Regions from separate parts of the Homo sapiens genome. Here region 2 is linked to region 1. A link means that fine-mapping ties the variant in region 1 to the expression of a gene that starts in the linked region. Tissue or cell type: monocytes after LPS. Region 1 holds a variant in brackets; the other region holds the start of a gene. All regions are shown on one strand. Distances are between the middles of the regions.

Evidence for each region.
Region 2: it holds the start of BRI3BP, and the variant in region 1 is fine-mapped to the expression of BRI3BP in monocytes after LPS (Fairfax 2014, PIP 0.95). The same link has a PIP of 0.9 or more in monocytes.

What each region holds. Positions count from the first base shown.
Region 1 is chr12:125,017,130-125,032,093 of GRCh38, reverse strand. BRI3BP (BRI3 binding protein) reads right to left here. Exons shown (of 3, transcript NM_080626.6): 3 at 863-7,103. The coding sequence ends at 6,664. THRIL (TNF and HNRNPL related immunoregulatory long non-coding RNA) reads left to right here and starts at 4,671. Exons shown (of 1, transcript NR_110375.1): 1 at 4,671-6,651. The variant C/T (reference allele first, on the strand shown) is at 6,536.
Region 2 is chr12:124,987,707-125,002,670 of GRCh38, reverse strand. It overlaps BRI3BP (BRI3 binding protein), which reads right to left and starts at 9,026. Exons shown (of 3, transcript NM_080626.6): 1 at 8,668-9,026. The coding sequence starts at 8,880. DHX37 (DEAH-box helicase 37) reads left to right here and starts at 13,540. Exons shown (of 27, transcript NM_032656.4): 1 at 13,540-13,754. The coding sequence starts at 13,649. RefSeq lists enhancers at 6,827-6,966, 8,147-8,236, 9,956-10,456 and silencers at 8,327-8,386, 8,397-8,646, 8,657-8,706, 8,807-8,856, 8,877-9,196 and 1 more.

The sequences.
Region 1 (14,964 bases):
CTGTCATTACTACCTACTGCACGTCCTCCAGTGCCTCACCGCCCCCGCTCACCTGCCTGCTTTCCCAGTGACAGGCCACCCAGGCTGCCCCCAGATAACTTCACAATAACTAGCCTCAAATTGTCCCCTTATCGACCTATGTGAGATTGTCTTTGCGTAAAAAGCAGGAGCAGTACTCTTGGGTTAAGAGTAATTATACTTGGTCAAGGTAAATTATACTCCTGTTACATTTGCTCCTAAATGTTTACTAAGAATAGGATTTTTAAGGCTGGGCATGATGGCTCACGCCTGTTATCCCAGCACTTTGGGAGGCCGAAACGGGCGGATCACTGAGGTCAGGAGTTGGAGACCAGCCTGGCCAACATGGTGAAACCCCATCTCTACTAAAAATACAAAAATTGGCCGGACATGCTCGCTTGAGCCCAGGAGATGGAGGCAGCAGTGAGCTGAGATCTCGCCACTGCACTCCAGCCTGGGTGAGAGTCCATCTCAAAAAAAAAAAAAAAAAAAAAAAAAAAATAGAAAGAAAAGGATTGTTAGGACCTGAGAAAGCAGCATGGGTATGCGGGGTGGGGTGGAGAGGCACGCATCACTGTGCTAGGACTGTCAGATTTGGCAACTAAAAATACAGGAAACTTGCTTACATTTGAATTTCAGATAAGCAACCAACACTTCTACACTATACTAAAACACTACTGGTTGTTTATCTGAAATTCAAATTTAACTGGGCATCCTGTATTTTATCTTGCAACCTTACCTCCAACTGAATACATAAATTCAAGGTTTTATGACTCTTCTCAGATCGAGGAATAGAACCATAGAATCCTGGTTACACATCAAAACTGGGGAAACTCCACAAATGTTTGGTTAGAAGTGATGAGATATATTTTAAAAGTCCATACAACAAAATTACAATAAACATTTATTAAGCTGTAATTTTCACAATATTTTAATTCTGTTCTGAGATCTACAAATATCTCTACATAACACCAAAGCCAGTGATTTAATAAATAAGAGGAATGTATATATCGCTTTGCAAAAAAATGCCTGATACATTTATCTCTATATAAGATATTTGTAGAATCAGTTTCCCAAGGCTCACGAAACTAAAGTGCACACACACACACACACCATGTACACACACACACTATTCAAATCAAATGGATTTATATTAAGTGCCAAATTAAATGCTATACAAAATTTATAACCAGATACACAAAATATGAAGTCAATCATGAATCCACTGTTGATAATGGATACCATACCTCACAAGTGTGATTTCCAGTTAAGAAGAGGGAGACAATTGCTTCATTGGGTTTTTAGTGTGTGCTAATCACCATCACCATCACAAGTTAATCAGTTTAATTACATGGTATTCAGAGATTAAACACACATGCAGATATTAAATGGACACTACAATAAAACCTTTAAATCTGCAAAAAGACATGAGAACACATGGTCAATAATACCACTCGCTGCCACAGCTTTTCAGTAGACAATGCAAATGGCAATCAGCGTTTTAAGCCACCACAAGAGAAAAACTGGTACTGGTGCACCTCCTACATATCAAGGAAAAGCAAAACACAGAATAATTTAATATGCTGAATAAAATTTGTTTACACCAGATACTATACATCACACTGATGGTTGTCCAGTATGAATTTTAAGGGTATTATGTTAGATTCTGCAAAATATATTCCTATTATTCACAAGTGAGGAGTCAAAGTCCAACTATTCAAATGGCCATAAACAAAAATGTTGCAGAAGGTATAGACCATTAAAAATAAAAAAGTCAGGAGTGGGGCAGCTGACCCCTTAGGAGCCTCAGGAATTCCTTTTAATGCAAGATAGATGGCAAGAGCTGGCTTTTTGGTTAAGTCAGCCAGTTCGGAAACCCATCAGGGAGAAGTTATCAGGTGTCAACTTGTAAGGCAGATGACATTCATCAAAAGCATCTTAAGAAGTAGCAGTGATCACAGAAAGGAAGCAATTCAGGATTTCCACTAGCAACAAATTGCATTAACCATGTCTAGGCCATTTGACAGCTGTTATTCTTAACGCTCCATAAGCCTGAATCACAGGGCCAGATGAGCGACTAAGCTGCTCACATCCTCTCTACAAGGCAGCCCTCCCGGGCATGCACAAAGTCATATTATAGTCTTCCTAATCACTGACCCAAACCTTTGCGTTCTTACTCAGCTCCCCAGAGGGGACCACCCCACTTGGTTACCACCATCACAGTCATAAAGACATAGTCCCAGTTCCCTGACATCGCTGCCTCCCGACTCCTGCATGAGACAGGCTCTCATTTCTGGGGTAAGTGTATGAAACACCTTTCAACGGCATTCACTTACCCTTTGTGAATTAAGACACAGGCACGATTCACAAGGTCTGCTTCCCAGAAATTCTATTGCTGTGCTCTGTTACCAGAAATGATATGGGGGCTGAAATCCAAAGCAAAAGAAACCAAAGGGCGGGTAATGCCGACTGGTATTGGAAAGTGTGTGTGTGTGTATATATATATACATATATATACACACACACACACTTTTTTTTTTTTTTGAGACTGGGTCTCACTCTGTCGCCTCAACTGGAGTACAGTGGTGTGATCTCAGTTCACTGCAACCTCTGCCTCCCAGGTTCATACAATTCTCCCACCTCAGCCTCCTGAGTAGCTGGGACTACAGGAACCCACCACCACACCTGGCTATTTTTTTTTTTTTTTTTTTTTTTGTATTTTTTGGTAGAGACGGGATTTCACTATGTTGGCCAGGCTGGTCTCGAACTCCCGACCGCAAGTGATCCACCCGCCTTGGCCTCCCAAAGTGCTGGGATTACAAGCTTGAGCCACTGCACCCAGCCTGGAAAGTATATTTATGAAAGGTTTGCACTCCACAAAAGCATCTTTGCTAGGGTGTCAAGGAAGAGATCACTAAACCAACCCCAACACATCCATACAATTCCAGCAATCTAGAGAGGGCTGGTCCTTTTCCTTTTCTGGATTATTTTCTGTTCTCAGTAAAACAAGTATTTACTGTGATACTGAAACACTGGGAAATTAACACTGATTAAGATATTTTAAACACTGAGTCTTAATTATAACAGAACCAGTTTTCATCAGAATGCTTTTACGTCACATTCAGTGAAGTGTTACGCTAATATATTCTACAGCCCTGAAGATAGAAAAAAGGTTTCTCTCCAGGTATGAGATATGGTACAAAAATACATTTTTCCACATACAAAAGAGAGAAAAAAACAAAGACATGTGGCGGGTGGCGAGGGGAGGCCCAATCCCAACACCCTACAAGGTTCCATGGAATGGAGAAGGAACAAAAAAATCCCCAATTATTTTGGGGTAAGATGTGCCCCAGAAAAGGTGAAATCTATGCAATAAAACCCAGGTTTTCTTCAAATCTAGCATCTAGGATTTCTATCAGAGTTTCAAATAATCAGAATTTCTATCAGAATTTCTACCCTGAGGTGACACCTACTAACTGTAGGTTCTTTCATTAAAAATGAAGACATCTTTCACCAGAATGTATCAAGCTATAAAACTGGCTTCAGAGCCTACACTTAGCCAGAGTGGAAAAAAAAAATAGTGCATATTTTCGACAGCAATTTTGAATTGATGCTTGAGGTCTCAATCCACCAGCACCCAGATATCATGTTACCTCCCTCAGTTGAATACAAGTTAAAATGATGATCTTATCGAGATCTCAATAGAGCACAGTGCCCTTCATGTTTCGGGTAAGAGGGTGGGAGGAGGAATGAAGCGGGTATTACACCCAGCCCAGTGACAGCTTAAGCCTTAACATGCGGGCATCTTACAATGACCATAAACAAGGGAGGGGCCAAGGCAGGGCTGGCGATCATTAGCTTTGCGCACAGAATGCCATGTTTTCCCCTGGCCAACATAAGCAAAGCTGTTTTAGTACCTAAACGTGGTATAGCCAAATGCACAAAAGGAAAGAAGATAGAGATGACCTCCCGAGTTATTTATACCTTGTGCTAAAATAGATTCATCTACAAGTATCTAAATGACAAAACTAGAATGATTTCAACCCAGTAATCCTGTGTTCCAATGTGCATGGATAAAGATTTGATCTAGGCCCAGCGCGGTGGCTCACGCCTGTAATCCCAGCACTTTGGGAGGCCGAGGCGGGCGGATCACGAGGTCAGGAGATCGAGACCATCCTGGCTAACACGGTGAAACCCCGTCTCTACTAAAAATATAAAAAATTAGCCGGGCATGATGGTGGGCGCCTGTAGTCCCGGCTACTTGGGAGGCTGAGGTAGGAGAATGGCGTGAACCCAGGAGGCGGAGCTTGCAGTGAGCCGAGATGGTGCCACTGCACTCCAGCCTGGTTGACAGTGAGACTCCATCTCAAAAAAAAAAAGATTCGATCCAGCAAATAATTTTTTTTGAGACGGAGTCTCACTCTGTTGCTGAGGCTAGAGTGTGGTGGTATGATCTCAGCTGACTGCAACCTCCGCCTCCCATGTTCAAGCGATTCTCCAGCCTCAGCCTCCCAAGTAGCTGGGATCACAGGCGCCCACCACCAGGCCTGGCTAATTTTTGTATTTTTAGTAGAGACGGGGTTTCACTCTGTTGGCCGGGCTGGTCTCAAACTCCTGACCTCAGGTGATCCACCTGCCTTGGCCTCCCAAAGTGTTGGGATTATAGGGGTGAGCCACCCTGCCCAGCCTGCTCCAGCAAATCTTAAATATCCATGCACACTGAATAAACATGCACCTGAAACAGGTGCACGTTTCAGGAAGTGAATGGAACTCTCCAGGAGAGTTTGGGTCCCATCATGTGTACCTTAGAAACAGAAGTCTCAAAAGTCTCAACAACATCCACAAAAACATCTGCATCTGTTTTCCAGATACTTGCAACCAAAAATAAAACTTCACAGGAACACTACACAAGAAGTGGTAGACAGCTAAATCTTCTCCAAACTGAGACCTGGACCATAAGGTCTTGGTTGTAGCAGGTCTGGCAGGGGTTATCTATAAACCTGCACGCAGGGCACTGTGAGCGGGTTGCCAGGGTACATCTGTGGCCAGGTAAGGGCCACAGAGACAGTCGTGATCCCCAGCAGCTTCAAAGCTGCAAAATGCTGGGCTTTTTTTTTTTTTTTTAAGATGAAGTCTTGCTCTGTTGCCTAGGCTGGAGTGCAGTGGCGTGATCTCGGCTCACCGCAACCTCCACCTCCCAGGTTCAAGCAATTCTCCTGCCTCAGCCTCCTGAGTAGCTGGACTACAGGCACCCACCACCATGCCTGACTAATTTTTGTATTTTTAGTAGAGACGGGGGTTTCACCATGTTGGCCAGGCTGGTCTTGAACTCCTGACCTCAGGTGATCCATACTCCTCGGCCTCCCAAAGCGCTGGGATTACAGGCATCAGCCACTGCGCCTGGCCTAGGGCTTTCTTTTTTAAAAAACAAGTCCTAACAAAAGGGGGTTTCTACCAGCCCCTGAGCCACACCTTCTGAAACTCCCTTGCCCAGGATCCCCACAGCTGTCCACCTCGCAAGTCCCACTCTCTGCCCACAGAGACTGCCTAAAAGGAGGACACAACAGATTTCAGATAAAAAGCACCTGTGTATCGTAAATATTTCAGGAAAAAGAATTCAGATCTTTTCAAAGGCTTGCTTATTGCTGCTAATTGTTCCTGAGGATCTTTCTAAGCAGCAATATACTTGAGAATATTAGCTGCTACTGTTTGTTTTCCCTCTAAGGTCCTGAGGAAATCAAAAGAAAAAAAAAAAAACCCTCAAGGGTATAGCTTTTGTATATAGCCCTAGTGAGCAAACTGCAAATTGGGACATGCAGTAGATTCTGGAGCAATCTCCAATCCTTACCAGGTACTTCCTGGCATCAAATCCCCAGGACATTTCTTGGCCCCTCCTTGCATTTTCCGTTTCAAAATGTTGAGGTTAAAATACATCGAAGCACAGAGGGAAGAAAATCTCAGGTCTTCTAGAAATGGCGATGTCTTCATTTAAAAATAGGACTGATGGGGGCTTGGCAGGGGTCTCTAGGATCCAAAAGAGGTTGAGTTGCATCCTGCAGCCCAACTGTCCACATTTAGAAGTGACAACATTCATGAACTAAGTCAACATCCACCAAAAATAACATGAAATAAAGCTCACAGTTTGGGAACATGAAAATAACGCACACAGACCTCACCCACCAATCCCTAAGCTGTGAAAACAAACGCTCGCATTTAAACTTTTCTCAAATGTCAAATTAGCATATTCTTCCCCTCCATGTAAAGTTTTAATAAACTTGACTCAATCTGCCTTTATTAAAAAACCTTACAAAAGATGTATTTAAATGCTTGAAAAAATTAACTTTATGCTCTATGCACAGATAAATTTCTCTTACTGTACAACTAAATATGGTTATATCCTTTGTTTAAAAAATATTTTTTCCCCCACTAATTACACTTCGTGTGTAGTTCCACGTCAATGATCTTTCCGCTCTTCTGGGAATGTGTCCTAAGAGCTGCCGGGTGGGTGGAAATAGCC[C/T]TACACAGCGCCACTTTCTTGCTCAGTCGTGTTTATTAAGATTGTTTGGGGTTTGGGGTTTTTTTCCTCCGTTTTCGTTTTCTGAGACAGCGTGCTGGTAACTGTGGACCCGCCCGGCCGGCTGACCTTCACTTGTCCTTGGAGCGGTCCAGGCTCTCGAGCACCCGGTTGAGACGGATGTTGAGCAGTCTGACCTGCTTCTCCAGGTGCTCCAGCTTCTCCTCCACGCTGGGGTTGCTGGGGTTGCTGGGGCCGCTGGGACTGCTTCGCCAGTAGAAGCCCATGGGCCCGGTCATGAAGTAGACGGCCACCACGAAGCACAGCGGCAGCACCGCGTTCTCCGGCTCGCCCTCGTACTTGTGCAGGATGTACACGCAGGACATGGAAAACAGGACGACCCGCACGATCCAGAAGAAGCGGCCGAACACCACGTGCAGGACGCTGAAAGTGAAGCCCAGGGTCAGGGACAAGAACCAGTAGGCCAGGAGGACGACGCCGACCAGCAGGAGCGCGCGGGCCGGGCTGCTGGACACCGAGGCTGGGCTGAAATACTGGGACAGGTTGGAGACTGCGGGACAGAAAAGAGGAACAGGGCTCGTTACGCAGGGGCCAGGGGTTTCTTAACAAGCTAGAATTGGATAGTTGAGCTGGCCTGTGGGGCTTAAAAGGCCTTTGCAACAACCAAAGGAACTCAAGGAAGTTCCTCTGTGAATAGTCACACTTTGCTCCATGAGGACACACAGGGAAGCCTCTTTTTTTTGAGATGGAGTCTTGCTCTGTTGCCCAGGCTGGAGTGCAATGGTGTGATCTCGGCTCACCACAACCTCCGCCTCCTGGGTTCAAGCAATTCTCCTGTCTCAGCCTCCGGGGTAGCTGGGATTACAGGCATGCGCCACCACACCCGGCTAATTTTGTATCTTTAGTAGAGACGGGGTTTCTCCATGTTAATCAGGCTGGTCTCGAACTCCTGACCTCAGGTGATCCACCTGCCTCGGCCTCCCAAAGTGCTGGGATTACAGGCATGAGCCACCATGCCCAGCCAGGGAAGCCCTTTAAGACGACCTGCCATGTTGAGTTTTAAAAACCTCTCCATATACTGGTTTCTCTTCAAATCATATACATCTTTCACCTTTAGCCTGGGCAACATAGTGAGACCCTGATATGGACTGGCTCTGTGCTCCCACACAAATCTCATCTTGAATTATAATCCTCACGTGTGGAGGAAGGAACCTCGTGGGGGGTGATTGGATCATGGGGGTGGTTTCCCCATGCTGTTCTTGTGACAGTGGAGGGGGGGGGGTTTCATGAGATCTGATGGTTTAAGTGTTTGGCAGCTGCCCCCTTTGCTCTCTCTTTCTCTCCTGCTGCCTTGTGAAGAAGGTGCTTGCTTCTCCTTTGCCTTCTGCCATGATTATAAGTTTCCTGAGCCACGCAGAACTGTGAGTCAATTAAACCTCTTTTATTTATGCATTACCTAGTCTCAGGTTTTTTGGTTTTTTTGTTTGTGTTTTTGAGGTTGGAGTGCAGTGGCACAATCTTGGCTCGTTGCAACCTCTGCATCCCAGGTTCAAGCAATTCTCCTGCCTCAGTCTCCCAAGTAGCTGGGATTATAGGCACATGCCACCACACCCAGCTGATTTTTGTATTTTTAGTAGAGATGAGGTTTCACCATGTTGGCCAGGCTGGTCTTGAACTAGTGTCCTCAAGTGATCCACCTCCTCAGCCTCCCAAAGTGCTGGGATTACAAGTGTGAGCCACTGCGCCTGGCCTCGGGTATGTTTTGATAGCAGTGTGAAAATAGACTAATACAGACCCAATCTCTAGAGAACACAAATTTTAAAAAAATTAGACAGGTGTGGTAGCACACACCTGTAGTCCCAGCTACTCAGGAGGCTGAGGTGGGAGGATCACTTGAGGCTGGGAGGTAGAGGCTGCAGTGAGCCATAATGTGCCACTGCACTCCAGCCTGTGTGACAGAGTAAGACTTTGTCTCAAAAGACAACTTTCACCTTTTACTAAAACACCTCTGGAAGTGGGGCATAGCCTGCAAATTGTCCTTCAATTTCCATAGTAACAAATGCCCACCTTCAGGCTGGGCACACAACTACCTAGGATTAAAGCATTTCCTAGCCTCTCTTGCAGCTACATAACTAAGCTTTGGCCATGTGTTCCCTAAAAGTAGCAGGAATGTGTCCTTTACCTCTTCTGCCTGCTGGAACATGGATACAATGGCTGGAACTGGAGCAGCCATTTTGGAAGGCACTCATGGAGGAACAATAAAATGGAAGGTGCTTTGGTCCAGAGCACCACATGCATCAGAGCCATCAAACCCGCCTCACCACCTCCCTGAGAACTTTCATATAAGAGGGAAATAGGTGTCCATCTTGGTTAAGCCAATGTTATGTTGGATTTCTGTTTCAGCCAAACCTGATCCTAACTGGTACCCACACACGAAGTTCCATCTCAAGAATGCAGTGAAATGTAAGAGTAGCATCTTCTGTGTGCCTGACTTGAAGAAATTCAAACAAAAAAGTTAAAAGAACAGTAGAATATTCCTTTTGAAACCAACTAGACTGAACAATTATTAAAAATTCTGAATGTTGCATTCTCTATTTACATACTTTTTAGATTAACCCATTTGAAAGATGTACACATCATACTTCATCATACATCTAAGAATAAAGACATCATTCACCTCAAAACCATGATACTATCATCATTCTAAGAATATTAACAATTCCAGGCTGGGCACGGTGGCTCATGCCAGCATTTGGGAGGCCAAGGTGGGTGGATCACCTGAGATCAGGAGTTTGAGACCAGCCTGGCCAACATGGTGAAACCCCATCTCTACTAAAAATATAAAAATTAGCTGGGCGTGGTGGCGCACACCTGTAATCCAAGCTACCTGGGAGGCTGAGGCACGAGAATCGCTTGAACCCAGGGAGGCAGAGGTTGCAGTGAGCCAATGGCGCCACTGCACTCCAACCTGAGACACAGTGAGGCTCTGTCTCAAAAAATAAATAAATAAATAAATAAATAATAAATTAACAATTCCATATAACATCACTTGAATTTCTCAGTTATCCAGGAATAGCTGTTTCCTCCCAACCCTCACCAGGACCCAGCGACAGTTCACGTTCAGCATTTGCCATCACTTTAGTCTCCATTAATTGAGAAGAGACCCATGACATTTTAGAAACACTGAAATTCTGAAGTCTAATTTTTCCAGGATGGTTTTCTTGCAGGAGGTCCCACATGCTGCAATTGTTTGTTTCCTGACAGTGTTGTTTAATGAGTTCAAGGAGAGTTATATCCTAAGCCTTCTCACACAAGCAGTTCTCAAACTTGTGTGATTCCTCCAGGAATCCCCTGGAGGGCTTAGGAAAACAGGTTGCTGGGCCCCACCCCCAGGACATCTGATTCAGTAGGTCCTGGGTGGGCCCAAGAATCTGTGGTCTTTTTTTTTTTTTTTTTTTTTTAAGACAGGGTCTTTTTCTGTCACCCAGGCTGGAGTGTGATGGTGTGATCTCGGCTCACTGCAGCCTTGACCTTTTGGGCTCAAGCGATCCTCCCACCTCAGACTCCCGAGTAGCTAGGACTATAGGCATGCACCACCACAGCTGGCTAATTTTTGTATTTTTTTGTAGAGACAGTGAAGTGGTTTGGTTCTGTGTTCTCACCCAAATCTAATTTCAAATTGTAATCCCCACGTGTCCAGGGAGGGACCTGGTAGGAGGTGATTGGATCGTGGAGGTGGTTTCCTCCATGCTATTCTCATGAAAGTGAGTGAGTCTCACGAGATCTGATGGTTTAAAAGTGTTTGGCAGTTTACCCCTCGCTCTTGCTTCCTCTCTCCTGCCACCACGTAAGACGTGCCTTGCTTCCCCTTTGCCTTCCGCCATGATTACAAGTTTCCTGAGGCCTCCCCAGCCATGTGGAACTGTGAGTCAATTAAATCTCTTTTATTTATAAATTACACAGCCTCAGGTAGTTCCTTATAGCAGTGTGGAAACCAGCAAATACAGATAGGATCTCGCTATGTTGCCCAGGCTGGTCTCGAACTCCTGAGCTCAAGCAACCTGCCTGCCTTGGCTTCCCTAAGTGCTGGGATTATAGGTGTGAGGCACCACGCCCAGCCAAAGAGGACCAAAGTGTGACACAACGATCTGGAGTGGGCAAGCGCAAATCCAGAGCAGGCCTGAGATGGGAAGCCTCAACCCTGGAGCTCCTCCGGTCAATAACGACACCTACGGCGTGAACATCTCATAGTTCCCCAAAATGATCAGACTCCGCACAGCTGGCCAGTGTCTAGAGTCCAACACTGTAAACAGCAGCCATCTCTGGGACTAAAGGCTTGGGGTCACCAGGACTCCCCAGAAGCCAGAGTGTGTTTGCTACACTGTGCCTTCCTGAGGCATCGTGAGCATTTTGACTAAATGTGGTTGACTTGGGAGCTGACTTTCACACCTGTCCCCTGCAGACTGGAGGCTAAACCAGTGTTTCCCAGACCTCTCAGTCTCAAGACCGTTTGCACTCTTCAGTATTATTGAAGCGTCCCCAGAGCTTTCGTTTATGTGGGTTCTACCTAACTGATATATTTTCCATAGCAGAAAATTAGGTAGTTTTTAATTAGTTGTTAATTATCTTTTAAATTTTATTATTTATTTATTTATTTATTTGAGACAGAGTCTTGCTCTGTAGCCCAGGCTAGACTTCAGTAGCATGATCTTAGCTCATTGCAACCTCTACCTCCTGGGCTCAAGCGATCCTCTCACCTCAGCCTCCCAAGTAGCTGAGACTACAAGCATGCACCACCAAGCTAATGTTTTGATTTTTTGTAGATACAGGGTCTCACTGTGTTGCCAAGGATGGTCTCAAACTCCTGGGCTTAAGCAATCCATCTGCCTCAACCTCCCAAAGTGCTGGGATTACCAGATGAGCCACTGTGTCCAGCCATTGTTAATAATTTAAAAACATTGCTATCATTAACTCATTTTCAAATAACAACCCATTACAGATGCTAGGCTTTGAGTATTTGTGTCCCCCACAAAATTCCTATGTTGAAATCCTAACCCCAAAAGTGATGGTCTTAGGAGGTGGGGTCCTGGGGAGGTGATCAGGTCGTAGGGGTGGAGCCCCCATGAATGGGTTTAGTGCCCTTATAAAGAGGTCCCAGAGAACCGCCTTGTTCCTTCATGTGAGACACAGTGAGGCATCGTCTACAAGAAAGGGCTCTCCCCACAGCCTGCATCTGCCAGTGCCTTCATTTTGGACTTCCTGCCTCCAAACTGTAAGAAATGAAAATGTCTGTTAGGCCGGGCACGGTGGCTCATGCCTGTAATCCCAGCTCTTTGGGAGGCCAAGGTGGGCAGATCATCTGAAGTCAGGAGTTCGAGACCAGCCTGACCAATATGGCGAAACCTTGTCTCTATTAAAAAAAATACAAAATTAGCCGGGCATAGTGGTGCATGCCTGTAATCCCAGCTACTCAGGAGGCTGAGGCAGGAGAATCACTGGAACCCGGGAGGCTGAGGTTGCGCCACTGCACTCCAGCCTGGGCAACAGAGAGAGACTCCATCTCAAAAAAAAAAAAAAAAAAAAAAAAGTCTGTTGTTGATAAGCCACACAGTCTATGGAATTTTGTTATAGCAGCCTGAACTGACCAAGACAATAGGTTAACACAAAATATTTTTCACAAAAAGCAACTGTTTCTAAAGCAGAACAAACCACTCTGAGAACAGTGGCAGTGCTTTGAATGTTTGCCAGTCTCTTTCCTATCTAGCTATTTAGAGGAGACCTGGCCCCCAAATCTGGTTTTGAATTCAGAGGAACAGAACACCAGCCACAAATGTGAGCCATGTTTGTCACTGAAAATTTTCAAGTACTCACAGCAAAAAAGGCAAAAAAAAAAAAAAAAAAAAAAGGGTGGAATTAATGTTAATAAGATATTTTGTTTAATCCAATCTATCTAAAATGTCATCATCTTAACGTGGCATCAATATATATGGAAGTATTAAAGTACGTACTGAATCCCTGACCTCAGAGACATGTTACGGGAGAAGAGAGGAACTCACAGTCACCCCTCCTAACCAAAAGGGTCTCAGGGACCTCCTGGGGTTCCTCTGAGCATACTTTGAGAAGCATCGTGTCATCAAGGGGCCAAGATAGTGATCAGCCAGGAAAGATGCCCAGAGACGAGAATGCCACCCCTGCCTTCCACCTCTCGGTGACTTCAGTGAAAGCTGTCCTTTAAACCAAGGAAGGGTGGTCCAAAGCAACGTCACTCCGAGGCCCTGAAAATCCTAAAGAAAACACGAGTGGCCCTGCACGTTCTGACAGCAAAGGGGCACCGTCTGACTTCCCTAGCGCTGCCATGGCCAAGTAGCTAAAAAGGAGTAGAAGGCCGGGCGCAGTGGCTCATGTCTGTAATCCCAACACTTTGGGAGGCCAACGCAGGTGGATCACCTGAGATCAGGAGTTCGAGACCAGCCTGGCCAACATGGTGAAATACCGTCTCTACTGAAATATAAAAATTAGCCAGGCGTGGTGGTGGGTGCCTGTAATTCCAGCTACTCAGGAGGCCGAGGCAGGAGAATCGCTTGAACCCGGGAGGCGGAGGTTGCAGTGAGCCAAGATTGCGGCATTGCTCTCCAACCTGGGCAACAGAGCAACATTCTGTCTCAAAAAAACAAAAACAAAAACAAAAACAGAATTAGCCAGATTTGGTGGCATGTGCCTGTAATCTCAGCCACTCGGGAGGCTGAGGTACTAGAATCGCTTGAACTCAGGAGGCGGAGGCTGCAGTGAGCCGAGATAGCGCCACTGCACTTCAGCCTGGGCAACAGGGCAAGACTCCATCTCAAGAAAAGAAAAAAAAAAAAAAAAAAGAACAGAAGTTTATTCTCTCAGTTTGTTTGGAGGCTGGAAGTCTGTGAACAGCGTGTCAGCAGGGCTGGCTCCAGAGGCTCGAGGGTGAATCTGCCCGGGCCTCTCCTAGTGTCTGCGGATTGCTGGTGATCCTTGGCACTCCGTGACTGCCAGACACACTCCTCTCTCTTACTCTGCCTTCACGTGGCCTTCTCCCTACGTGTGTCTGTGTCTAAATTTCCCCTTCGTATAAGGACACCGGTCACATTGGATTTGGGACTCACCCTACTCCAGTATGACCTCATCTTAACAAATGACACCCACAATGACCCCATCTCCAAATAGCATCCCATTCTGAGGCTCTGGGGGTTAGGACTTCAACAGATAAAACAGATGAATACGGGGACACACAATTCAACTCCTAACAGGCACTGTTCAAGCAAAGTGAATGTTTTGGTGGCCAACTTGTTCCTCAGCGTGGGTCGGGTTTACACCTGCACACTTGTCAAGTCCTGATGGCTGCAGCAGGGGAAGCTGGCTCTGGGTGCAGCTGGCCAGCCGCCCCTCAGTGTGGAGAAGTGAGATTGGCAGGTCCCAGAACTGCACAGTGATGTACATTTTGAAGGAGGGCCCCTTTGTAAGCCCCCGAGTGTTTACTGAATACCGACCATGGGCTGGGCGCCATCCCACCACCCTACACACACAGTCATCCAGTCCTCATGACTCGCTGATAGGGTAAACAGCATTTTCCACACAAGGACTCCTTGCCCAGGGTCCCACAGCTAGGACAGGGCAGAGCTGGGATTTGGAACCAGGGGATCCAGTTTCCGGAGCCACACAACCCCTGCCCTGTGCCGACGCATCACTGAAGCACGATTCCTATTTTCCCCAGTTTACTGGAAACTTTGTTGGAAGTGGCCTCAGCAGCTTCAGAGGGGTAAGCAACACGATGAAGACATGAGCCTTAAATCCATCCTTCTAAGCCATCCTTCCAACTCCTGGACATGTGCTCTGTGCCAGCAGATCTAGAATGGGGACAAAGGCTGTGCCATCTATCGTGTGCTGAGCCCTTGAAATGTGACAAGTCAGAACTGATGTGCGCTCTAAGTGTCAAATAGAGACTGTCTCAAAGGCCTTAGTTACCCAAAAAACTGTGAGACACCTGATAATTTTCTATTAATTATAAGTTGTTTTTAATATATTGGGTTAACTAAAATATCTTATTAAAATTAATTTCACCTGGGCATGGTGGCACATGCCTGTAATCCCAGCACTCTGGGAGGCCAAGGCAGGCAGATCACTGGAGCTCAGGAGTTCGAGACCACCCTGGGCAACATGGCAAAACCCCATCTCTATAAAAAAAAAACATTAGGGGGGCACGGTGGCTCACGCCTGTAATCCTAGCACTTTGGGAGGCCGAGGCAGGTGGATCATGAGGTCAGGAGTTCGAGAATACCCTGGCCAAGATGGTGAAACCCCATCTCTACTAAAAAAAAATACAAAAATTAGCCAGGCATGGTGGCAGGTGCCTGTAATCCCAGCTACTCGGGAGACTGAGGCAC
Region 2 (14,964 bases), 29 kb after region 1:
TCCTGGCTAACACAGTGAAACTCTGTCTGTACTAAAAATACAAAAAATTAGCTGGGCGTGGTGGCGGGTGCCTGTAGTCCCAGCTACTCGGGAGGCTGAGGCAGGAGAATGGCGTGAACCCCGGAGGCGGAGGTTGCAGTGAGCAGAGATTGTGCCACTGCACTCCAGCCTGGCAACAGAGCGAGACTCTGTCTCAAAAAAAAAAAAAACAAAACAAAAAAAAAAACCAGTTCTGGACTGTCAAAACCACAGCAATACTACTTCACGTCTGCCAAGATGGCTAGAATTAAAAAGGTAGACCATAGCAAGTGCTGACAAGGATGTGGGGAAACCAGGCCCCACATGCTGGTAGGCAGGTAAAACGGTACATCTGCCTTGGAAAAGGGTGACGGTTCCCCAAAGTGTTAAACAAAAAGTTCCTGTATGACCCAGCAACTGGACTCCTAGGTATGCACCGCAAAATACTGGAAACAATGCCCACACAAATATTTGCACATGGATATTCACAGCAGCATCCATTCACAATAGACAAAAAGTGACATAAACCGAAATGTGCATCAGTTGATGATCAGGTAAATAAAAAGCCATAAAGAGGAATAAAGTATTGATCCTGCAGTATGGATGAACCTTGAAAACATGAGGCTAAGTGAAAGAAGCCAGACACAAAAGGCCAGACTGTACAGGACTCCACTCCTATGAAAAGCCCACAGTAGGCTCAGAAATAGAGACAGAAAGCAGATTGGCAGTTGCTTAAGGCTGGGAGTTGGGGCAAAGGAAAAAAGTAGTGACTGCTAATGGGTACAGAGTTTCTTTTTGGGGTAATGCAAATGTTCTAAAACTGACTGTAGTGACAGCTGTACAGCACTGTGAATATACTACAAACCGCTGAGCTTTCAATGAATAAACTGTATGGTATATGAATTATAGCTCAAAAAAAAAAAAGACATTTAGTCTGTGATCTTCAGAAATGTCAATGCTGTAAAAGTCCCTTACTGGGCCAGGCGAAGTGGCTCACGCCTATAATCCCAGCACTTTGGGAGGCCAAGGCGGGAGGATCGCATGAGCCCAGGAGTCAAGAGACCAGCCTGGGCAACACAGGGATTTCGAGGAGAAATCCTGTCTCTACGAAAAATACAATAAATAAATAAATAGGCATGGTGGCACATGCTTGTAAGCCCAGCTACTCAGGAGGTTAAGGTGGGAGGATCGCTTGAACCCAGGAGGCAGAGGTTGCACCGAGCCGAGACTGCGCCACTGCACTCCATTCTGGGCTACAGAGTGAGAGCTTGTCTAAAAGAAAAAAATGCATAATTGGGGCCGGGTGCGGTGGCTCATGCCTGTAATCCCAGCACTTTGGGAGGCCGAGCCGGGCAGATCACGAGGTCAGGAGATCCAGACTATCCTGGCTAACACGGTGAAACCCCATCTCTACTAAAAATACAAAAAAAATTAGCCGGGCGTGATGGCGGGCACCCTTGGTCCCAGCTATTTGGGAGGCTGAGGCAGGAGAATGGCGTGAACACAGGAGGTGGAGCTTGCAGTGGGCCGAGATCGCGCCACTGCACTCCAGCCTGGGTGACAGAGCAAGACTCCGTCTCAAAAAAAAATAAAAATAAAAAAAAATTCATAATTAAGTCCCTTCCTCCACCAAAAGTGAGGAAACTCTGACAGACTAGAGACATGAACACTAAATGCATGAGCAGTCCTTGACTGGGTGTTGGATTTTTTATGAGCTATAAAGACAATTTGAATATGGACTATCTGTTACAAAATACTGTACTATATTTAAGTTTCTTGGCTGAGACAATGGTATTGTGGTTCTGTAGGAAAAAGTATTAAGACGTCTGCAACTAACTTTCAAATGATCCTGCCAAAAAATAAAAATAAATGTGTGTGCATGTGTGTATGTGTCTATCGGATGTGTTTGCAGAGAAAAAAGTTTGAGGGGAAATGTAAGAACTGGTGACTTTAGGGGAGATGTTTGCAGCTATTCCTTGTTCTGTTCTTTCAGCATTTTAGTACTTTGAAAAATTATCAACATAAAAAATTATAGGAAACAGGCTGGGCGTGGTGGCTCACGCCTGTAATCCCAGCACTTTGGGAGGCCGAGGCAGGCAATCATGAGGTCAGGAGATCGAGACCATCCTGGCTAACATGGTGAAACCCCGTCTCTACTAAAAATACAAAAAATTAGCCGGGCGTGGTGGTGGGCGTCTGTAGTCCCAGCTACTCGGGAGGCTGAGGCAGGGGAAAGGTGTGAACCCGGGAGGCAGAGCTTGCAGTGAGCCGAGATTGCGCCACTGCACTCCAGCCTGGGTGGCAGAGCGAGACTCCCTCTCAAAAAAAAAAAAAAAAAAAAAAATCATATGAAACTTTATCTTAACTGTGGTAATTTTTCACAAGTGTGTATGTCAAAAGGTGTCAACCTGTACACTTTAAATACGCACAGTCTATTGAGGTGTAGTGCAATTACACCTCAAAAAAGCTGTTAAAATGTTGGTAGGGGAAAAAGGACTGGAAAGTGTCAAAGTTATTTTGCTCAAAATACTTTCTTGCAAACAGCAAAAAATGCAAACCTCTTTACAAAAAAAAAAAAAAAGCAAAAACAAAAGAACCCAACAGCTCAATAGAACGGCAAAAAAAAAAAAAAAAAAGAAAAACCAAAAGGCAGTTCCCAGAACATATCGATGGATTCTGAATAAATGAAAAGACCATCTGTCTCATACATAATAAAGCCAAAAAGTTTAATGAGGCTGGGTCGGGTGTCTCACACCTGTAATCCCAGCACTTTGGGAGGCCGAGGCGGGCGGATCACGAGGTCAGGAAATCGAGACCATCCTGGCGAACACAGTGAAACCCCGTCTCTACTAAAAACACACAAAAAAATTAGCTGGGCATGGTGGCAGGCGCCTGTAGTCCCAGCCACTTGGGAGGCTGAAGCAGAAGAATGGCATGAACCCAGGAGGTGGAGCTTGCAGTGAGCCGAAATTGCGCCACTGCACTCCAGCCTGGGCGACAGAGGGAGACTCCGTCTCAAGAAAAATAAATAAATAAATAAATAAAAATAAAAAATAAAAAACTTAGCAGGGCATGGCGGTGCAGACCTGTAATCCCAGCTACTTGAGAGGCTGATGCAGGAGGATCATTTGAGCCCGGGAGGTAGAGACTGCAGTGAGCCAAGATTGAGCTACTGCACTCCAGCCTGGGCGACAGAGGGAGACTCTGTTTCAGGGAAAAATAAAATAAAAATACAAAACAGTGCGCATAGTGCAAAATAAACAAAAACCAACAATAGGGAGCAGATCTATAGATCCATATATTTATACATGTTCAGAATATCTGGCTGCTTCGGGGAAGGGGGTGGTAGACGGGTCGGTAGTGGGAAGTGGAGTTAGTTTCTTAACCTTCAGAACTACATGAAATTGTATTCCATGCAACTACGACCAAGGAGCAAGGGAAAAAAGTACTAGTTTCTCGACCTGGCATTCAGGATGTTTCCACCACATCAGTCCAGCTATATTCTGCCTGAGAGGAATCATTTTCTCCACATACAGTAGGTGCTTGAAATTTTTCATTTGTTTGTTTTTTTTGGAGACAAAGAGTTTTGTGCTGTCCCTGAGGCTGGAGTACAGTGGTGTGATCACAGCTCACTGTAGTCTCAACCTCCCAGGATCAAGCGATCCTCCCTATGCAACCTCCCAAGTAGCTGGGACCACAGGTGTGCGCCACCATGCCTAGCCAAAGGTTTTGGTTTTTCGTAGAGATGGGGTCTCACTATGTTGCCCAGGCTGGTCTCAAACTCCTGGGCTCAAGCAATCCTCCCACCTAGGCCTCCCAAAGTGGTGGGATTACAGATGTGAGCCACTGCACCAGGCCAATTTTTTTAAAAAACTGTAGTCATATACACATAAAGTTGGCCATTTTAACCATTTTAAAGTGTACAATTCAGTGGCATGAGCACGTTCACAATATCATGCAACCATTATTATCTAGTTCCACAATCTGTCATCACCCCAAAAGGAAACCCTAGATCAATTAAGCAGTAATTCCCCCATTGCTCCCTCCCCCAGCCCCTGGCAACCACCCATCTGCTTTCTGTCTCTACGGATCTTCCTATTCCAGATATTTCATATGCTGTAAATGGAATCATATAATGTGTGCCCTTTCGTGACTGGCTTCTCTCATTTATTCAAGGTTCGTCCAAGTTGTAGCATATAGCAATACTTCATTCCTTTTTATGGCTGAATCATATTTCATTATACAGACACATCACATTTTATCCCTTCATCAGCTGATAAGACATTTGGGACATTTCCACTTTTTAGCTATTGTAAAAAGTGTTGCTATGAACACATGTGTATAAGTTGCTTAATAATTTTTTTTGAGACGGAGTCTCTGTTCCCCCGGCTTGAGTGCAGTGGGGCGACTCAACCTCACCGCAACGTCAGCCTCCCGGGCTCAATCTATTCTCCTGCCTCAGCCTCCCAAGTAGCTGGGATTACAGTCGTGCACCACCACGCCCAGCTAATTTTTTTTTTTTTTTTTTGAGACGGAGTTTCACTCGTTGCCCAGGCTGGCGCGCGCAACGGTGCAATCTTGGCTCACTGCAACGGCCGCCTCCCGGGTTCAAGCGATTCTCCTGCCTCAGGCTCCCAAGTAGCTGGGATTACAGGCATGCATCACCACGCCTGGCTAATTTTTTGTATTTGGTAGAGACAGGGTTTCACCATGTTGGTCAGGCTGGTCTTGAACTCCTGACCTCAGGTGATCCATCCACCTTGGCCTCCCAAAGTGCTAGGATTACAGGCGTGAGCCACCACACCTGGCCTAATTTTTGTATTTTTAGTAGAGACAGGGTTTCGCCATGTTGACCAGGCTGGTCTCGAGCTCCTGACTTCAGATGAGCTGCCCACCTTGGCCTCCCTAAGTGCTGGGATTACAGGTGTGAGCCACCATGCCAGGGCATCACTTAATAATTTTTAAAGGAATTAACAAGTCTATTACCTCCTACCAGACAAATTCCCTTCATATAGAAATATTCTACCATTTACTAAATGCTTATTCAGTCCCTGGCATTGTGCAGCCCAACCAATCTCCTTTAATTCCCCAATTTATCTCCTCTGAACAAATGGGACACAGATAAGTAAAGCAACTGGGTGGTGCACGGTGGTTCACGTCTGTAAATCCGGCACTTTGGGAGGCCGAGGCAGGCAGATCACCTGAAGTCATGAGATCGAGACCAGCCTGGCCAACACAGTGAAACCCTGTCTCTACTAAAAATACAAAAATTAGCTGGTCGTGGTGGCATCTGCCTGTAACCCCAGCTACTAGGGAGGCTGAAGCAGGAGAATTTCGTGAATCCGGGAGGCGGAGGTTGCAGTAAGCCGAGAGCTCGCCATTGCACTCCAGCCTGGGAGAAGAAGCGAGACTGCATCTCAAAAAAAAAAAAAAAAAAAGAGAAGTAAAGCAAAAAAAAAAGAGAAGTAAAGCAACTGGCTCAGGGTCACAGAGCGAGTGAGAAACAGCTAGGATTCAAACTCATGTCTGTTCCCATGCTCCAAACAGGATGGTCATAGGTGTATTTCAGACAAGTCCTAGATTAGAATATGGGAGGCCGGGCACGGTGGCTCAAGCCTCTAATCATAGCACTTTGGGAGGCTGAGGAGGGCGGATTACGAGGTCAGGAGTTCGAAACCAGCCTGGCCAACATGGTGAAACCCCATCTCTACTAAAAATACAAAAATTAGCCAGGCATGGTGGCACACACGCCTGTAATCCCAGCTACTCAGGGGGCTGAGGCAGGAGAATTGTTTGAACCTGGGCGGCAGAGGTTGCCATGAGCCAAGACTGAACCACTGCATTCCAGCCTGGGCGACAAAGCAATACTCCATCTCGGAAAAAAAAAAAAAAAAAGACTATGGGGTGTTTTTTTAAATACCATTAAACTTCACAAAGCAGGTTTGGCTCTAATTCGTAAACCCAGGCATGCTGAAAACTACAGTTGCTGGCAGACCCAGTTTTCCTTTATTTAAAATTCACAAAACAGGCTGGGCACGGTGGCTTACGCCTGTAATCCCAGCACTTTTGGAAGGCTGAGGTCGGCAGATCACTTGAGGTCAGGAGTTTGAGACCAGCCTGGCCAACATGATGAAACCTCATCTCTACCAAAAACATAAAAAATTAGCCGGATGTGGTGGTGCTCACTTGTAATCCCGGCTACTCACTTGTAATCCCGGCTACTCAGGAGGCTGAGGCAGGAGAATTGCTTGCCCAGGAGGCAGACGTTGCCGTGAGCCAAGATCGTGCCAACGCACTCCAGCCTGGGTGACAGAGTAAGAGTCTGTCTCAAAAAATAAATTAATTAATTAAATTTAAAAAAAAACCCATAAAATTAACAAAACAATATCCCCAAGCCTGGCCAGTGTGGGCTACACTCAGCAGGAAATAAAATAAGTCAGGCCAGGTGCAATGGCTCACACCTGTAATCCCAGCACTTTGGAAGGCCGAGGCGGGAGGATCACTTGAGGTCAGGAGTTTGAGACCAGACTGGTCAACATGGTGAAACCTCTTTTCTACTAAAAATACAAAACTTAGCCAGGCATGCTGGTGGACACCTGTAATCCCAACTACTTGGGAGGGTGAGTGGGGAAGATCGCTTGAACCTGGGAGGTGGAGGTTGTAGTGAGACGAGATCACTCCACTGCACTCCAGCCTGAGCAACAGAGCCAGACCTCCGTCTCAAAAAAACAAAAAGGAAAGAAGTCAGGTCAGCCTCTGGATGCTGTACTGACTCGGGGAACAGGGAAGGGGTCATGAAGCAGGAAAACAGGCGAGAGATACTAATGTGGGCTCCATGTCCACTCTGCCTAGGTTCACATCCTGGCTCTGCCACTCATCTGACCTGAAACCAGCCACTTCACTGCTCTGTGTCTCAGTTTCCTCATCTGTCAAATGGGAACAGTAACAGTACCTACTGCACAGGGTCATTCTAAGGATTACATAAGATTATTCTATCTACAAAAGCACTTAGTAATCATTAGTATCTCTATTAAAGGCACAAACCCCGGTTTAGCCCAGGAAGAGCTCTGACCCCCAGATTCGGAGATGCTCTGCCAGAATACAGATTGTCTTATTTAAGTAAAAGTCTTAAATAACCACTCGTATTTCATGTTTGTTGGCCTTAGATTGTCACATGGAACCACCGTCAGTTGAGACATGGGGATCCTGTGGTCACCCTGCGTGAAAAAGACAGGCTTATTTTTGCTCTAAAACAAATGATTTCTGCCTTCAAATAGCTCCGAAACGGCATCAAGAGGAAGTAAGTGAGACTCCCTGCACTCACACCCCTGATCCTTTCCCGCGCCAGACTCCAGGGCAACCTTTTCACATTCAGGCGTTCAGCCCTGCTTCCTTGCCCCTCTTTGGCCACCTACAAAGCGTTCTCTCCCCTACATGTATGAAGACACAGACCCACCTGTGCAAGAGGTGCCCCTGCCCACAGGAGAGGGAGGTCAAAACTTACTGTTTTCCTAACAAATTAACCTTTCATGTTATCCAGTAAGAACATGCAGTCAATCTGATTTCGGCCTTCATATTCCCTTCTATTCCCCACTCCCTCTCAATGAGCAGAAAACTTTAACTTTTTAGCCATGATTCTGGGCCAGGAAGGTACCAACTAGTCATAATTACAACCTCGCAATGAAGGGGAATGATTACTATCCCCATTTAACAAATAAAGAAACAAGCTCAAAGAAGTGAAGTCACTTCCCCAAAGTCATCCAACTGGTAGAGCTCCAACTTGAACCCAAACTTCTCTGACTCCAAAACCCCAGGAAGGCTGGCGGCAAGCAAGAGCCCCCTCCTCCCCAGGGAACAGCAAAGGAACCGCAATACCACACACAACTGTCCCCAGTAACTTCCTCCTTCTCAAGAGCTAGTCGGCGGACTTCGGCCCGGAATGGCACCCCTATCGCACCTAGCTCCAGAGAGCAGGAATTGGGGAAAACCCCCTGCGATCCTCCTGGGACTCAACACCCTTCCCAGGAGGCTGCAGGATCCGGGACCTCCCCAAACTAAACAAAAGGCTCCACGCGAAAGGCCCCGCACACAGTAGGTGCTCGGTTTCCCAAAGCCACCGAGCAAATCGCATTGCTCCCTTCTTTTCCTGTAAAGTAAAAACAACTCCAAGTATCTTCAAAGCAGGAGGAGGAGTGGGGCAGAAGGTCCCAGGGGAAGTGGGTCGGGATGCGAGGCTAGGACAAACCCGGGGTAGCTGGGGAGGGCGCAGCCGCGTGGGGACCGAGAGCGCCAGTGTGCTGCCTGGCTCACAGTAGGAGCCATTCAAACGCGGTGAATGAATGAATGAGACGCGCGGCAGGCGTCAGCGCAGCCGGGAGAGACTCTGGCTGCGCCGACCGCGGAGGCAAGGTCCAAGGAGAAGCGCGGCGCAGAGGAGAGGGCGCCCCGAGGCCCGGCCGCCCAGACCCGCACTGGTCAGGCCCGGCGGGGGCCGCAGGCGGCAGGCCCCGAGGCGCAGGCCGGACCCCCTCTTCCCGCGCGCTGGCCGGGCGGGCAGCCCCGGAGGCCGCGCTCCTCCCAGGTCGGCCCCGGTAGCCAGGTGCGTGGCGACCGGGGCAAGGTGACCGCGGGCGCGGGCCCGGCGCCCACCTTCTGAGCGGCGCGCACGTTGTCCTCGCCGAACAGGCTGCTGACGCTCTGGGAGAAGGTGTTGACCGTGCGGCGGTAGCTGTTCTTCTCCGCGCCGCCGCGGCCCCGCGCCCCCTGCGCGCCCGGGGCCAGCAGCCCGAGCAGCAGCAGCAGCAGCAGCAGCAGCAGGAGCCCGGCCCGGGCCAGGGGCCCGCCTGAGGCGCGCGCGCCCATGCTCGGCCGGCGGGGCGCGGGGTCGCGATGCGGGGTGAGGGCCGTGCGCTGGGCCGCAGCGGGCTCCGGCTAGGGCAAGGTTGGCGCGCTCGGGGGCCGCGCGCCGCGCCTTTACCCACAGCCGCCGCCGCCGCTGCTGCGCCACCTGCCCCGCCCCGCGCGCAAAGGCGCACGGCCCAGCCCACGCCGCGCCCCGCCCCCGGCGCGGGACCAACGCGACCCGGCCCCGGGGCCCCGCGCCCGCCTCCCGGAAGCCTGCCCCGACCCGGTGCGGCTTCTCATCATTTAAAAAAAAATTCTCTTTTTTAACTTATCCGTGGAAAAGCAACCCGTGCCTGTAAAACTTGCAACAGCTTCAACCAGGAAAGTGACTGCAACTGATTGAAAAACATGAAATAGACATATATGTAATCTCCCTGAATGTATTATAATGGTACCCCAAAATTCGCCCTCGTGGGCATCAGCTCATTCATCCTGAAAATTTTAAATAACAAGAAAGCATCAGGCATCCTCCTGCCCTTCCTGAATGAACTGTATTTCAGAGCCCCAAAATAGTTGGGGAGGGACTTTCTTTTACAAAGTCCAGCTAATACATGAGGATGAATGAGAGAATCCGAAAATTATTTGGCACCCCTCAATAGAATGATGGATTCACGCGATGATCATCAGAAATGGGTACAACCAAGAGGGGAGGGTTTGGCGGGGAACTTGAAAATGGAGGGGCTAAGCCGCGAAGTCCCGGTCCCGCCAATCGATCTTAGTGCCAGGAAGTACCAGCGCCACCTGCGATGGATTCTTGCCAAGACAAGTTGAGCATGAACCTGATGGGGCCTCTAGATCAAACCTACAGTTTACAGGAAATATGGCAGATAAGGAAAACTTAGAAGCAGCAGAAGCAACCAACCAACTCCAGCATGTGGGGCATTCTACCAAACAAACGACCCAGTTTGTTCAATAAATAATTGGTATAAAAGGTGAGCGAAGAGGAGGATAATTGGTTTTAAAGACTTAAGAGCCATAATAACCCATGCAATGCAAGGACCCTGTTTGCATCCTAAATCAAACAAATCAAGTCTAACCAACATTTTTTTTAGACAACCAAGAAAATAAAACTCAATTTTTGCCAATCCAAAGAATACAAAATGCTCTTATTTTTGAATTTACATTTTCTGGATTCCTAGTAAGATTTTCATAGATTTATTGGCCATTTGAATTACTTCTCTGTGAATTACCTATTCATATCCTTTGCACATTTTTTCCTGTATTGTTTATCTTTTTAAAAACTTTTTTGTAGGTCGGGTGCGGTGGTTAACGCCTGTGATTCCAGCACTTTGGGAGGCTGAGGCGGGTGACCTGAGGTCGGGAGTTCGAGACCAGCTTGACCAACATGGAGAAATCCCTCCGTCTCTACTAAAAATACAAAATGAGGCCAGGCGCCGTGGCTCACGCCTGTAATCCCAGCACTTTGGGAGGCCGAGGCGGGCGGATCACAAGGTCAGCAATTTGGGAGGCCGAGGCGGGCGGATCACGAGGTCAGGAGATCGAGACCATCCTGGCTAACACAGTGAAACCCCGTCTCTACTAAAAATACAATAGCCGGGCGTGGCGGCGGGCGCCGTAGTCCCAGCTACTCAGAGCCTGAGGCAGAAGAATGGCGTGAACCCGGGAGGCGGAAGTTGCAGTGAGCCGAGATCGTGCCACTGCACTCCAGCCTGGGCGACAGAGCGAGACTCCGTCTCAAAAAAAAAAAAAAAAAAAAAAAAAAATCCAAAATGAGCCAGTTATGGTGGTGCCTGCTTGTGATCCCAGCTACTCGGGAGGCTGAGGCAGGACAACCGCCTAAACCTGGGAGGCGGAGGTTGCAGTGAGCCGAGACTAAGCCACTGCACTCCAGCCTGGGCAACAAGAGTGAAACTCCGTCCCAAAAACAAAACAAAACAAAACAAAAACCTTTTTTTACGCCAGGTGTAGTGGCACAAGCTTGTTTTGGGAGGCCAAGGCAGGAGGATTGCTTGAACACAGGAGTTCGAGGCCAGCCTGGCCAACATAGTGAAACCTATCTCTATAAAAAATGATAATAATAATAATAATAATAAACTTTTTAATTAAGGTATAACATACAGAAAAATACACAATCATATAAATTTTTATGAATTTTCACAAACTGAATACCCAAGGTAACCAGCACCCAAATCAAGAAACGAAACATTACCAGTTCCCCCACGAAGCCTCCCTTTGTCCCCTCCCATTCACTATGTTCCTCTTAAAATTTAGGGGATTCATTTGCCTGTGTTTGAAGTTTATGTAAATGAACCACACAGTACTCTGGGGGTTGGCTTCTTTTGTTCAACTTTTTTTTTTATTTATTTTTTATTTTTTGAGACGGAGTCTTGCTCTGTTGCCCAGGCTGGAGTGCAGTGGCATGATCTCGGCTCACTGCAACCTCCGCCTCCGGGGTTCAAGCGATTCTCCTGCCTCAGCCTTCCGTGTAGCTGGGACTATAGGCACGCGCCACCACACCCGGCTAATGTTTGTATTTTTAGTGGAGACAGGTTTCGCCATGTTGGCCAGGCTGGTCTCAAACTCCTGACCTCAGGTGATCCGCCTGCCTTGGCCTCCCAAAGTGCTGGAATTACAGGCGTGAGCCACCACGCCCAGCTTTTGTTCAACTTTATATTTGTGAGATCCATCCATGCTGTTATGTATCTGCCTTCTTCTTGCTGTCTAGAATGGTCTATACCTTCTGGAAGGTAATTCACTGATATATTATATTTTAGAAGGAAATATAGGCAAGTGTACTACTACCTACTTAACATTTTTTAAACGTTTCTTAAACTTTTAATTTATTTAAATAAACATATTTAAAGAAGAAACTTTAGATCACTATCATCCTGAGCAACAAAATCCATAAAAACACAGATTTGAGCCTGGGTGCAGTGGCTCAGGCCCGTAATCTCATCATTTTGAGAGGCCAAGGTGGGCCGATCACTTGATGTCAGGAGTTTGAGACCATCCTGGCCAACATGGTGAGACCCCATCTCTACTAAAAATACAAAAATTAGATGGGCATCTTGGTGGGTGCCTGTAATCCCAGCTACTTGGAAGGCTGAGACAGGAGAATCGCTTGAACCCGAGAGGTGGAGGTTGCAGTGAGCCGAGACTGCTCCACTACACTCCAGCCTGGGCGTCAGAGGGAGAGTTCTGTCTCAAAAAAACAAAAACAAGCAAACAAACAAAAAACCCCATAGATTTGATACGCTAATTATGATTTTTTTAAACGTCATTCATTAAGGCCTTCACAGTGGCTTATGCCTGTAATTCCGGCACTTTGGGAGGCCGAGACAAACGGATCCCTTGAGCCCAGAATTTTGAGACCAGTCTAAGCAACATAGGGAGACACCATCTCTACAAAAAAATAGAAAAATTAGCCCGTCGTGGTGGTGTGTGCCTGTAGTCATAACTACTCAGGAGGCTGAGGTGGGAGGACAGGTCAAGGCTGCAGCGAGTGGTGATTGCACCACTGCACTCTGGCCTGGCCCACAGGGCGAGATCTCATCTCTTAAAAAAAAAAAAAAAAAAGTCGGGCGCGGTGGCTCATGCCTGTAATCCCAGCACTTTGGGAGGCCCAGGCAGGCAGATCACGAGGTCAGGAGTTTGAGACCAGCCTGGCCAACATGGTGAAACTCCGTCTCTACTAAAATACAAAAACTAGCTGGGGGTGGTGGCGGGCACCTGTAGTCCCAGCTACTCGGAAGGCTGAGGCAGGAGAATCGTTTAAACCCGGGAGGCAGAGGTTGCAGTGAGCCGAGATTGCTCCACTACACTCCAGCCTGGGCAACAAAGCCAGACCTTGTCTCAATAATAATAATAATGCATTGTTTCCCAGTGTGTTACAATGTGATGCGGTAATGGGAATTTAAAGTTATGTAATAGACAACTTTATTTTTTTTTTTTTGAGACAGAGTCTAGCTCTGTTGCCCAGGCTGAAGTGCAGTGGTGCAGTCTCGGCTCACTGCAACGTCCACCTCCCGGGTTCAATCAATTCTCTGCCTCAGCCTCCCAAGTAGCTGGGATTACAGACGCCTGCCACCAGGCCTAGCTAAATTTTTTTTGTATTTTTGGTAGAGACGGGGGTTTCACCATCTTGGCCAGGCTGGTCTTGAAATCCTGACCTCGTGATCCGCCCGCCTCGGCCTCCAAAAGTGCTGGGATTACAGGCGTGAGCCACCGCGCCCGTAGAGGCCTCCTTTTAGATCTTCCATCTATCCCTGTGATGGAAATATTTGGTGCCTTTTTAAAAGTACACGACTAATACGTTTCTTGTAGGAATATCAGAAAATACAGATGCGCAAACCAGGGTTGGGGGGAAGAAGTTTGGAGTACTGGGGGCGGGGTATATTTTAAAAGGTGGCAAAACACTTCCACTCCCAAGAAGCCAAATTAGTATCAGTAGATATAATTCATATTTAAACCCAGACTACCCCAAGCGAGAACAGCCCAGGACTTAAACTCCGGCCTCCGCTGGGACCTCAGGCCCCGCCTACTTCTCTAAATAGTCCCGCCCCCTGCCCGGCCCGGCTCCGCCTCTCCTCTTCGCTGGGTTTCTCTTGCAACCCCGCCCCTCAGCGGCAAAGTCAGTTACAGTTCTCGCGATAACACAACCCGGAAGTCTCACGGCCGGAGTTGGTGGTCTGGGAACCCACGTGGGCTGGGTTTCGGATTGCTCTGCTGGTCCGGCCGCTGGAGCGCCCACCCTGGCCTAGTCGCCATGGGGAAGCTGCGCCGGCGCTACAACATCAAGGGGCGCCAGCAGGCGGGCCCCGGACCCTCGAAGGGCCCCCCCGAGCCGCCCCCCGTGCAGCTGGAACTGGAGGGTAAGACATCCCCGGACCGGGGCTGGATTTCGGAGATTTCCCAGGGCGGCCTGTGCCCTGCCTTCAGGACTCTCGGGTGGGGATCCCAGAGGGGTGGGATGGATCATCTGGAATGGGGGAATGGGTCCCCCCATTCCAGATGATCCAAAGGAGAGGGGCTTAGTGACAGCCTAGTTTTAACAGTGTATATGGAATACCCGGGATTTCTCTCGCCCTCAAATAGTAACATGGAGAATTTGGCAAAAAAAACAGGAGTAGTTCCATCCCTTCCCATGACTTCGATTATAATCTCTTTATAATCTCCAGCGACCCCCAAATGTGTATTTTCAGCCCAGTCTTGTCTGCTCAGCTCCAGGCTGGCTGACATTTCTCTCAGACCCCTTTTTAGGAGTAGCCCTTATTACATGCCAGGCACTATTCTAGGCACTGGAGACATAGCAGAAAGGGAGATTTTTAGAAAATCCCTGAGTTTACCTGCTGTATAGGAGGAGACAGGCAAAGAATAAACATATAGAAATTTATGCGGCTATAGTGAGCAGATAAAACAGAAGAGGCCATTGGGTGGGTTGCAGCATCCCATAGAGTTGCTGGAGAAGACATCACTCTGTTAGAGTCAAGATCTGAAGGAGACCTGAGTGGCTGCCTGGAGATGAGAGAAAAAACAGGGGGCCAGGGCAGGTCGGGCCTGGACTGCAGTCTTGGCGAGGACTGGGGCTTTTTCTCTACGGGAGAGGGCAGCCATGGGAGCATTTAGAGCAGAGGAGGCGTGGTGGTGGGCACCTGTAGTCCCAGCTACTTGGGAGGCTGAGGCAGGAGAATGGCTTGAACCCAGGATACGGAGGTTGCAGTGAGCCAAGATCGCACCACTGTACTCTAGCCTGGGTGAGAGAGCGAGACTCCATCTCAAAAAAAAAAAAAAAAAAAAAAAAGTTCCACAGACAGGCTGGGAGTTGAGGCAGATCCCCTAACATCTCTGTGCCTTCGTTTTCACATCTGCAGAATGGGACCAGTAGCACACGTTGAGCAGCCTTAATCCAAAATACTCCAAAATTCAAAAGTTTTTGAGTGTCAACATGACACTTAAGGAAATGCTCATTGGAGCATTCCAGATTTCAAATTTTTAGATTAGGGATGCTCAACCAGTGAATAGAATACAGATGTTCCTAAAGCTAAAACAGGTCTGGTTCCTAGCATTTCTGGAAAGGGATAT